3 separate regions of the Homo sapiens genome follow, and all the other regions are reported to be linked to region 1. The links are microRNA targets in miRTarBase. Many come from high-throughput screens and were not tested one by one. Region 1 holds a microRNA gene; each other region holds the end of a gene's coding sequence.

What was found. Region 1 holds the annotated microRNA hsa-miR-4486 (GCUGGGCGAGGCUGGCA, at 1,276-1,292, opposite strand). A microRNA usually pairs through its seed, bases 2 to 8, with sites in the 3' UTR of a target mRNA and lowers its output. Matches are read on the target gene's strand: a 7mer-m8 pairs with bases 2 to 8, a 7mer-A1 pairs with bases 2 to 7 and ends in A, and an 8mer does both.
Region 2: miRTarBase lists ACVR2A as a target of hsa-miR-4486. Seed matches in the 3' UTR shown: 7mer-A1 at 283-289.
Region 3: miRTarBase lists TLN2 as a target of hsa-miR-4486. Seed matches in the 3' UTR shown: 7mer-A1 at 2,468-2,474 and 7mer-A1 at 1,849-1,855.

What each region holds. Positions count from the first base shown.
Region 1 is chr11:19,573,348-19,576,605 of GRCh38, reverse strand. MIR4486 (microRNA 4486) reads right to left here and starts at 1,296; the gene lies at 1,234-1,296. It also overlaps a transcript of NAV2 not described here.
Region 2 is chr2:147,926,933-147,930,190 of GRCh38, reverse strand. It overlaps ACVR2A (activin A receptor type 2A), which reads right to left. Exons shown (of 11, transcript NM_001616.5): 11 at 1-3,111. The coding sequence ends at 2,917. Among named protein-coding and RNA genes, the nearest start is that of ACVR2A, 84 kb to the right of the region's middle.
Region 3 is chr15:62,839,835-62,843,092 of GRCh38, reverse strand. It overlaps TLN2 (talin 2), which reads right to left. Exons shown (of 59, transcript NM_015059.3): 59 at 1-2,611. The coding sequence ends at 2,483. LOC105370854 (a long non-coding RNA gene) reads left to right here. Exons shown (of 7, transcript XR_007064671.1): 4 at 1-293. Among named protein-coding and RNA genes, the nearest start is that of MIR190A, 18 kb to the right of the region's middle.

The sequences.
Region 1 (3,258 bases):
AATCATATTCATGTATTTGCATAAATTAATAAACAGCAATTATATATTATAGCAATTTCTAAGTAATATCCCCAAATAACTATCTCAATATACCAAAATAGTAACAATGGTTATTTCTGGGTGGTGGAATTATGGGTGATTTGTATTTCTCCCCAAATTCTCTACAATTAGTATGCATTATTTTTGTAATAGAAAAACAAACAAATGAAACATGAGTAAGAAGCGAGTGGTTTCAAAATACCCTGCAGATGGGAAATCTGTTCGCTTGCCTTGGATTCAGCTGAAAGCCTCTCTATGACTTCAAGAACCATCAAAAGTTTGAAGTAGCTTGAAAACAGGTTTTTGCATCAGAATGCGGCAAGGCTGCCCAGTCTCTGGCCAAGTGGGTCTGATCCCTTACCTGTTTATTTTGTGGCTGAGGATCAGAAAGGAGTATGCTAGCTTGGAATGGAGAGTGTAGACAGAGGAGGACCCATTCCACAAATGGCTGTGTGCAAAGGGCACTTAGGCCTGGATTTGAGCACTTTTTCTGCCATACACTAGATGTGAGATCTTGGGCCAGTTATTTCACTCCTTTGAGCCTCAGATTCCTCACTCTGTATGACTTAAAAAAGCCATCCTGAACCACCCAGGCTCAACTGGGCATCTATTAGAGTCCACACCGTAATCTGCTCAGCCCTCTGTGTTACAATGGGCTACAACTTAAAACTAGGGAACACACCTTGTCCACAGCTGTGATTCCCTTACCTCTCATAGTGCCTGGTACAGTGACCTTCAATACACATTTGCTGAATGAATGAGATGCCAAAGCTCATGCTAGGTCCTGTAGCTGCAGAGATGAACGACATGGATCCCTGGCCATCGGGAGCTCCCACTTTAGTTGGAACTCAGTCTCCCCAACACAATATAGATGATGACCAATGCCTTAAAGGGCTTATGTGCAAAGAGAAACTAGAAGAATGGGGAAGAAAAGGTGAATTTCCCCAGGGGTGTCTGAGGAGGTACTTGCATAGGGGGGTAGAATCTGAGCACAGTCTGGAAAAATGAGTAGAGCTTCTCCTGCGGGTACAGAGACAAGGCAGGCAAAGGTGTGGAGTGGAGCAGGAATGTGCACAGCAAGGAAGAGGCAAGAGCAAGGCTAGGGCCAGGCGTGGAGCACCGTGGATGGGTCTGACTGGCATTCTGGCTGCTGTAGGAGCCCAGGCTTAGAAGGAGAGCTGATGGGCTCCTTTCTCATTGCAATGGCAAGAGCAAGCATCTACCGCCTGTGCTAGATGCCAGCCTCGCCCAGCATGCTTCCACCTGCCCATCAGGAGGGCAAGGCAATAGGACCAGTTTGGGGTTAATCACTGCTAAATCTAGTCTGCTGCTAAGAACCCCTCTAATTTAAACCAGCATCTGTGAGAAGGGCCAGCTTTGGCAGGGGCCTTGAGGAATGTGGACATGATTAACCTCTGCCAGTTGCAGCAAATTAACTGCAAAAAGAACATCCTGGCAGCACCCCGGATCTTAAGTGCAGCCAACCCTTGAAGATGCAGGCTGATTGCTTTGCCTGGGCTGGAAGTGCAAAGCTGTGTCTTTACTGGGCACTTCCCATTAGGAAGTATAGGGGCACCAGCTAAACTCCATCCCTCCTCAGGGCCTTCACCTGTGCTATTTCCTCGGCAGGAAACCCCTTCGCCCAATTGAGTATGGTTGGCCTGTTCTGATCTTTCAAGTCCTGCTTCAAATGTTGTTTCCTTTGTGATGTCTTCCCTGACTCCCCATCTAAGGTGGCTTTGCTATTCTCCCCACACTCATCACTTTCTGTTCCACCATTCTATTTTCTACTTTTCAAAGAGTTTATTTTCTTGCATGGTTGTTCATTTCCTTTCTCTCTACCTAATTCTAACTGGACCTATGCTCCACGGTAGCAGGAACCTTGTCTTGCTCACAGCTGTATTCACTATGTTTGGCACTTAATAGGTGATCAACAAAAATAAACGGGATGGAAGGAAGGAAGTAAAGAAGGAAAAAGAGGGGGTTTCTAATACAATGGCTCCAAAATGTCCACCAAAGCACTTAGCCCCACTGCCCTGGGAAGATGGCTCATTACCCATGAGCCCACGGAAAACCTATAGGCCAGGGCCAGGAGTGTTGGAGCCCCAGGGACAACACAGGCCAGGAATCTGATGCTAAAGGAAGAATAAGGGACTAGGAAGGGAATTAACATTTATTGAGCACCTACTGCTCAATAGTGCCAGGCCTGTGGTTACTGAATGAAACCTCTCATTTTACAGATGAGGGGGGCTGTAGCTAATAATAAATCATAATAAACATAAAATATCTAACATTTATTTTTGCACCTGGGCTAATCACATTGCATATATTTTCCCAACAAGTTTGGGAGGTAAGCATGATTACTGCTCCCATTTTGTAAGCAGTGGGAACCAGGAATGCTCAGTAACTTGCTCAGTTTTATACAACTAGCTAGTGGCAAAGCCAGGATCAGAACTCAAGTCTTTCCAACTCTTGTCCAACATCCTCTTTTGACAGAAAATGCCCTTCACACTATCATGATGGCTGGTTTGGCCCTGCCTTGCAGCCAGCTCTCCAGGGAAGTTGCTGGAAGGAGCCCTGCCCCAGGCCATGGTTCTAGGCAGACTTCAGACAATCCCCAGTCATCCACCAGCTGCTCAGCAGGCCAGTAAATTAGCCTGCCACCCCCAAGTGCTGAAAGCACTTGGGCCGCCTGACACAGCACCCTTGCCAAGAGCCTCCCACAGACACAGGCAGGTGAGGAGGGATGGGCCTTCTAGCCCTGCAAAGCAGCCAGCTCAGAAACCACCCAGGGAGGCCTCCCTGACAGGCTGGGTACAGGGGAGGGCTCAGGCAGCACTTTCTGTCCAGGAGAAGAAAGCACAGTCCTCAGGCTCTACCACCTACCTATAAGCTGGTGACCAGATAAGTTTCTTAATCTCTCTAAGACCTAGCTTTCCCATCCATAAGGCTTCTGTGAAGATGAAGTGAAATGGCAGATGTCAGGCACTGCCCGCGGCTGGCACAGGGTAGCAGCTCAGTGAAGCTCAGCTGTACCAGGTAAATTCTAAAATCAGAACCCGCCAGGAAATCCTCCTTCCCACCTATATACTCACGCATGCCACAGTCATTGAGTCCATACTATGTGCTTGGCTGTGTGCTGAGCGCTGGAGAAAACATCATTAACAAAATGGTCAAAATCCCTGACTTCAAAGACCTTCCAGTTCGGAGTGGGTAACC
Region 2 (3,258 bases), not on the chromosome of region 1:
AAAGGTGTTGGGTTTTTTCCTGATTGTATTTTCAAAACATCACCATGAAAGATAGATAGTGCAAGTTCATGGGACTAACAATCGTGAAGCACAGTCTCTTTTTCTGGAATTCACAAGGTACCTAGAATTCAAACAAGAATCACACATCACATGCTAAAAAAACTTCTAGCATCTAAAATACATACAAGAGCTGTGCAGGGCATAGACTTCAAATAAAGCCGAACACTGGTTAATCCATCAGTCCTATGGCAAGTTGATCATAAAGCATTCCTTACGCGGAGATCTGGGCAAGGTAAAGAGTATAAGTTAGAGCAGCAGCAGTTCTGATGGGTATCAGAAAGGCAAAATACAAGACGAGTCATGAGGAGCACCATACACATGAGGAAAGAGTTATTTGGGGGGTCTCAGTTTGCCCCAAAATGGATCACCATTTTTCTCATTCTTTGATCTTTTTTTTTTCCAGTATCTCTAGCTCAAACTTTCTGTTAACTTGCCCACTCTGCACTGACTGTAAACCAAACACTAAATACCCTGCAAAAGAAAGTTTTAACAAGACTAGGTATAAGGACAGGTAGTCACTGGAACATTCTTATTTTACTGCTTATAAAAAGTTTTTCTATTAATAATAGTTCTCAAAAGAATACAAGTTTTAAAATTGGTTAGCTACAGTTAAATACAATACCCAGGATTTCTAAAAATTTTTTCTAACTTGAAAACATTTTATATTGTGAATAACTGGGTTTAAAAATTTTATCTCTAGTACTCACATAAGCCAAACATTCATCATAATATCCCTTGTTTATTTTTGTTTAACTTTTAAAAAGAAAGTTAAATGTTCACAACAGGTAGAAATTCATCTTCAGGAAATTAATGATTTTCTTGTATGCACATTCTCAATATTTTCCCTTCTTGATTAGTTTTTAAATGGAAGCAAAACCAGATCAAGAAATTGAGAGACCAAGTACTTTGTGAAATAAAGAGGTGAACTCAACATTGAAAAGGGAATTGCTAGGAATACAATGAATGAGACCATGGGGACACACGTGACAGTTCTGAATGGTCTGCAGCACACAGACGCTATTACTCTTCTTTTCCTCCCTGCTTAAAGTCTGTTGACCTATGTATTGTTTATAAATAACATAATTAATTTACTATTCCCAGAGATTACGTACATATATGTAAAATGTAGTGTACTGTGTGGTTAAATAACCATTTGAAGACAACACATTCACAGTGAGCTCCTGACAGTGACATGTAAAAAATTCTTTTATAAAATTAACATGGATTTTAAAATGACCTGACAGAAATACACAGCATAATACTGGCTATTTGTTGATTAATTGATTGGTAATCTGGAAATTCAGAAAATTAATGTTTTACTTTTTGGCCTGTATAAATTTGAGGAAGAATCCAATTGTATTCTAACGTAATATTGTTTTGAAAAGCACTTTAGCACCTGCCTACCATCAATTCCATTTTCTTAGCAAGGATAAGGCATGAACTATCCTAAATTAGTATCAGTGTTAGTTGTAAAAGCAATTTTGGGGAGGAGGCTAGGCTATGCTACCTATATCAACATTGGTTACCTCTAAATGTCATTGCATATTTTAAGTTATACGTTTAATTTGTTATCCCTGATTTGTTTTAAAGCAGTAACATCTGAAATCTGCTTAAAGTTTAATATCTTTATCCTAGGATAATTCTTTACATATCACAGACATCAAATATTACTCTGACAAGATGGCACCAAGCAGAAGTATAGTGATAAAGTTACAAGTCTCATAGCAGACAGTGGGGAATTCTGGGTAACGACACTTCCTGAGGTGATCCTAAAACAGTGATAAAGAATGTCCCACACACTGTTTGGTGAAAAGAAATACACTACAATTTTACATATATAAATAGAAAAAACTCTATTTTAAAAGATAAAATGAAGAGCTTTCCAGTGTCACAGCTCACTTTAAAAAATTTTAAATCATGCTTTAAATTTTCAAATATTCCCCAAACACAGCACACCTAAAAAAAATACTTAGGTAAGTATGCAAATTTTGGGAACTGGATATAAGATGGGGCTTTAAAACATGGGAAGAAGGGGGAAATGACACCATCTTTTCAAAAAACAGCACTTTTTTTCCCTACATTACAAGCCAGCACAAGAAATGCTAAAACACTGCTTTACGAATGGCCACTTATTGTTGGCACTAAGCATAGCTTACCTTTTTTTCCTTAAATAACACAGTGAATTTGTTACAAAACATGGATCGATTTATTATTCAAATTTTGTTAGTGTTTTCAATTTTATAATTTAGCAACCGTGGAACTGAGGTATACCTTGTTGAGGGAGGTTAAAGTAATGCTTGGAAGCCTCTTTACTGTACCCCACTTTGATGACTTTATGTACACAGAACAGCAGCACACTAAACATTCACAAGCTGTGTCATATTGGCATTACAATAGTCATTTATAGAAACAACAGCAAATGCAATAAAAACAAGTTACCCTTTTTAAAATCTGAAATGAAAAGTTTTTGATTTAAAAAAAATAGCAGTAGTTCATTTAAGGAATTAGTGTCTTCTGACAGACATTAAGAAATCTGATGTCAGTTTTCAAACACTCCATTAGCCAGGTCCAAAAGATCCTTGATTTGGAGAGGGCTACATTCTTCATGTACACTTTTTCAAAAGTTTCTTTATAGAGTTTGCAAGGTTTCTCTTAGTCTCATGTCCTTCACATCTGTGCTGTCGGCAATGCAGTAAGTCTCCCAGAGCAACATTTTTCAACAAAGGGTCTTCTTTCTTAACATTTCCAAGAGACATCCTACTCATTTTACACAGAAAATAAACTGTAAGCAGTTTCTTTAGCTTAGCAGCTCCAGTTCAGAGTCCCATTTCTTAGTGTGCACAGATGGCGCAACCATCATAGACTAGATTCTTTGGGAGGAAAGTCAACATTTGTCACCATTGTGACCACTGTTACAATGTCCTCTGTGGTAATAATATTTGTTAGTCTCTGCATCTGGGTAATTCTTTCACCTACACATCCAGCTGATAACCTGGCTTCTGCGTCGTGATCCCAACATTCTTCAATGGTTTCACAGAGCATTGCCATTCCCTAAAAGGAGAAAAACATATACTCAAACGCCACAGCAGTTTTTGTTTTCTATTAGGAAACAATAAAATTTTCATGAAGAAATGGCTATTTTTCTGGGTCAAAGAAGTTTCTGTCAACATTCACTTTTATTGACTACCATGTGCAGAA
Region 3 (3,258 bases), not on the chromosome of region 1:
AAGTTCACACTCCCAAATGAACTCATGCCTGTGTTATTTTCCTTTGAAGGACCAGAAGGCCCCCTCAGTACCATCTGAGGACACCGCAGTAGTGCCTATTAAATAACATCCAGACAAGGCATGGCCCTTCAACTATCTTATGAAATGAGAAACCACCACACCGGCCACGAAGCCGTTCACATACACATGTGCAGGGTGGATGAGGAAAGGACAGATGAGAAACTGGGACCATACCAGGTGATAACTGAGAACCAAACTCCCCAAAGCTCCCAGCACTGGACGACTCCAGAAAGGTGAGTATTTATATAGCTCCTACAAAAATAAACTTTCGATGCCTGTTCTTTAGAGTTATAAAGGAAAGGCCTTTGCATTTGGTTTGTCTCTGGAGGCTTTTCTGGTATCAAATGCAGTAAAGGTTTTAAATGACTCTGAGGCAAGGTGGAAGAACTGGCTGCCTGCCCCTGCCTTGGTCCTGGGTTTTCAGGATGGGATGGGGCACAGGCAGAAGAGGGCAGCTGCCCTGGGCACAGCATAGAAGAGCAGAGGGTGGGGTGGGCTGGGCCACAGAGGGGATCCCCAGAGTCCTGTTACAGGAGGCCATGAACACATTGTGACTCTGAGCATTGGGGTCTGACTCCTGAGTGTCTCTGGAAGCACGTGTGCCCCTCCTCTCAGTGTCCGGCCAAGGCAGGCATGAGGTGTTGGATCAGCTCCACTCAAAGAGGGCGAGCCAAGAGTGTGCCAGCTTTTCCCCAACAGGCTAGGGCTCCAGCAGCTCCCCTCCTCTTCAGAACTGGTGCCCACACACTGTCAGTGTCCTACACATACTCTCACTTGCTTTTCCTTTACAGCGTCTTTTCTCTAACTTTACTGGTCTGAAAAAAAAAAATTCTAATACGTGCAGCACTTATAAGTAACTTATAAATATGGGAAGCTGTCAGAAGTTTATGTATTTTAAAACCATGACATGGGCTAGAGTCTGGTGAAACAAGATCGGGCAAGGTCGAAAGGTGACATCTTCGGAGGACCAAAGCACCAACTTTCCCCCGTCAGTGGAACTTTGAAACTATAGTGTGGATGGAGTCCAAGACATGATAGCACACCAGAGAGAGAGAGAGAGAGAGAGGCGGAGGGTGAGTGCCTTTAACTGTTACCAGTTTTGAAAATCATGTACTTCCATTAACTTTTACCTTCCCCACTATGAATTCTTTCAAACACTCCTGCTCCCTGGCATTAGATTCTGTCCCACGAGCCATTCATCTTCCATGCACTGCCTTGGCTAAAGGTGCAGATTAAGGGTAAATTCAAGCCCTTCCCTTCCTATGGGAGGGCTCTGAAAAGGGGAAAGAAAAGAGGGGAAAAATATGAAATTCTGGAAGTGTGACATCCAGAAAATGAAAACATCTTATGTCTTATGTGATAATAAGTAAAACTATCTTGTTAAAGGTTCACATTGATTTTAGGATGCATTTAGATTTTCTGGATATTAAGACAGAAAAAAAGGCGTTTTGGGTTGGAGGACAGGGGACAGGTTTGTAAGCAGATCCTTTCCAATCCGGGCTTGTGACCATTCTGAAGGCACAGAAACCAGCGTGGGACCTAAAGATGAGTCACTGAGGAAGCTCTTTATTCCAGCAGAATCCCCACCCTGGACGCTAAGGAGACGAGCATTCCACTGACTGTCAACTGGGAGCCGTGGGTTTGTGTGGATGACTCTGTGTGAGCTGAAACAGCCTCTGCAGGGTAAGGAGCCCACAGACTGTATTACAGCCCCTGCTCACCAAGCCCCGACGGCCTTCCGCAACTCTGCCCTTTGGACTACGGAGGAACAAAATAATCGTTCAGTTTTCTGGGCCACAAAATACAAGATGGGTCTGGGTTGTACAAGGAGCTTACACACGGAGGCAAGAAAGCGTGCAAACAGGGGCGGGAATTTTTCACCCCCTGGGTGAGCCAGTGCTCAAGACATGGAAGGAGGACCTGAGTCACCCTCCCGGAGTCCACACGGGTTTGTGTTTCTGGCTTTTATGAACCATGTCCAACTCCAGCTTCCGTCTTCTCCTGAGAGGAAGAAGAATATTCTATGACGTCAATGATTTTTTTCCCTATCACAATATCATAAAGAGGTCCAGGAGCAGGCCTAAGAGAAGGACCAACAAAAGCCAAAGTGTCTGAGAACAACATAATACTGACTTTTCTTTGTTGGTAACAGTCCATGAAACGTGCACCCCTCTCTCCTGAGACACGGTGAGGCATGAGGGGAGGCGGCAGAGGAGTTGTGGGTAGGACATTGTACCGTGTGACATCACGATCATGCAGCCAGTGCCGACGGGACAGAGATGTGAGAACAAGCACGCAGGGCTCCAGGCTCACCCGGGAGGGAGGTGGGCGGTTTCCAGCTAAGTGCCCAGCCTCTCAGGAACACTGTCTGTCCAGTTCAGCCAGGGCCATCCCCTGGGGCTCGCCATCTGGGCTCGCACCTTTAGCCCTCATCTTCCCTCAGCTCGGTGGGTAAAAACTTATACTGCTGCTGGCGGATTTGGGCCAGTTTTTTCCTTGCTTCTTCCAGTTCTCGCTCTTTCTTTAGCATTTCTTCCTGGGCGGCGATGATCTAGAAAGAAAGCAACAAGCTGGATGGACCTAACACTTTGTAGAAAACCCTCCGACCCACCCCACTGCTCATGTGAGCTCCACGGCTCCCGCGACCGTGGGACACTGCAGCACATCCGGAACAGCTTTCTTAGCTCTGGCGACCAGCCTCTGTCACTGTTTGGGTTTTGAGACTAATGACCCAGCTGAGCCATGAAAACACGCTGGTTCTGGCCTGTGATTGAACAGCAAACATCTCTTGCAGCCTTACTATGTACCAGGCTCTGGTGCAAACACTCCACGTAGACAGTCCCTTCACTGAAGGGGCTGCCCTGTGAAGCATGCCCTGTTGAAAGTCTTGTTTTTCCAAGAAGAAATCTGAAGCTGAGCAATGTAGGTCCACTGTCTGGAGTCACCCAGCCAGTGGAGGAAGACCCGGTCCAGGTATGGGCAAGGCTAAAGCGGAGCCCTGGACCACCAGATGGCCCTCAAATGCTTATTTCACGCTTTCAAGGTGTGATCTGAGGAAGACTTGCTGATAGGTATTGTGTGGAAAGGGAAAGTTGTGTTCAAAAAAGCAAAGTCAGTTCCTTTCCTGGCTTTCCAGAGCCTTGACTAGGCTACCGACTATCATTATTACCAGGGCAGGGTTATTGAATGCAGTATTCT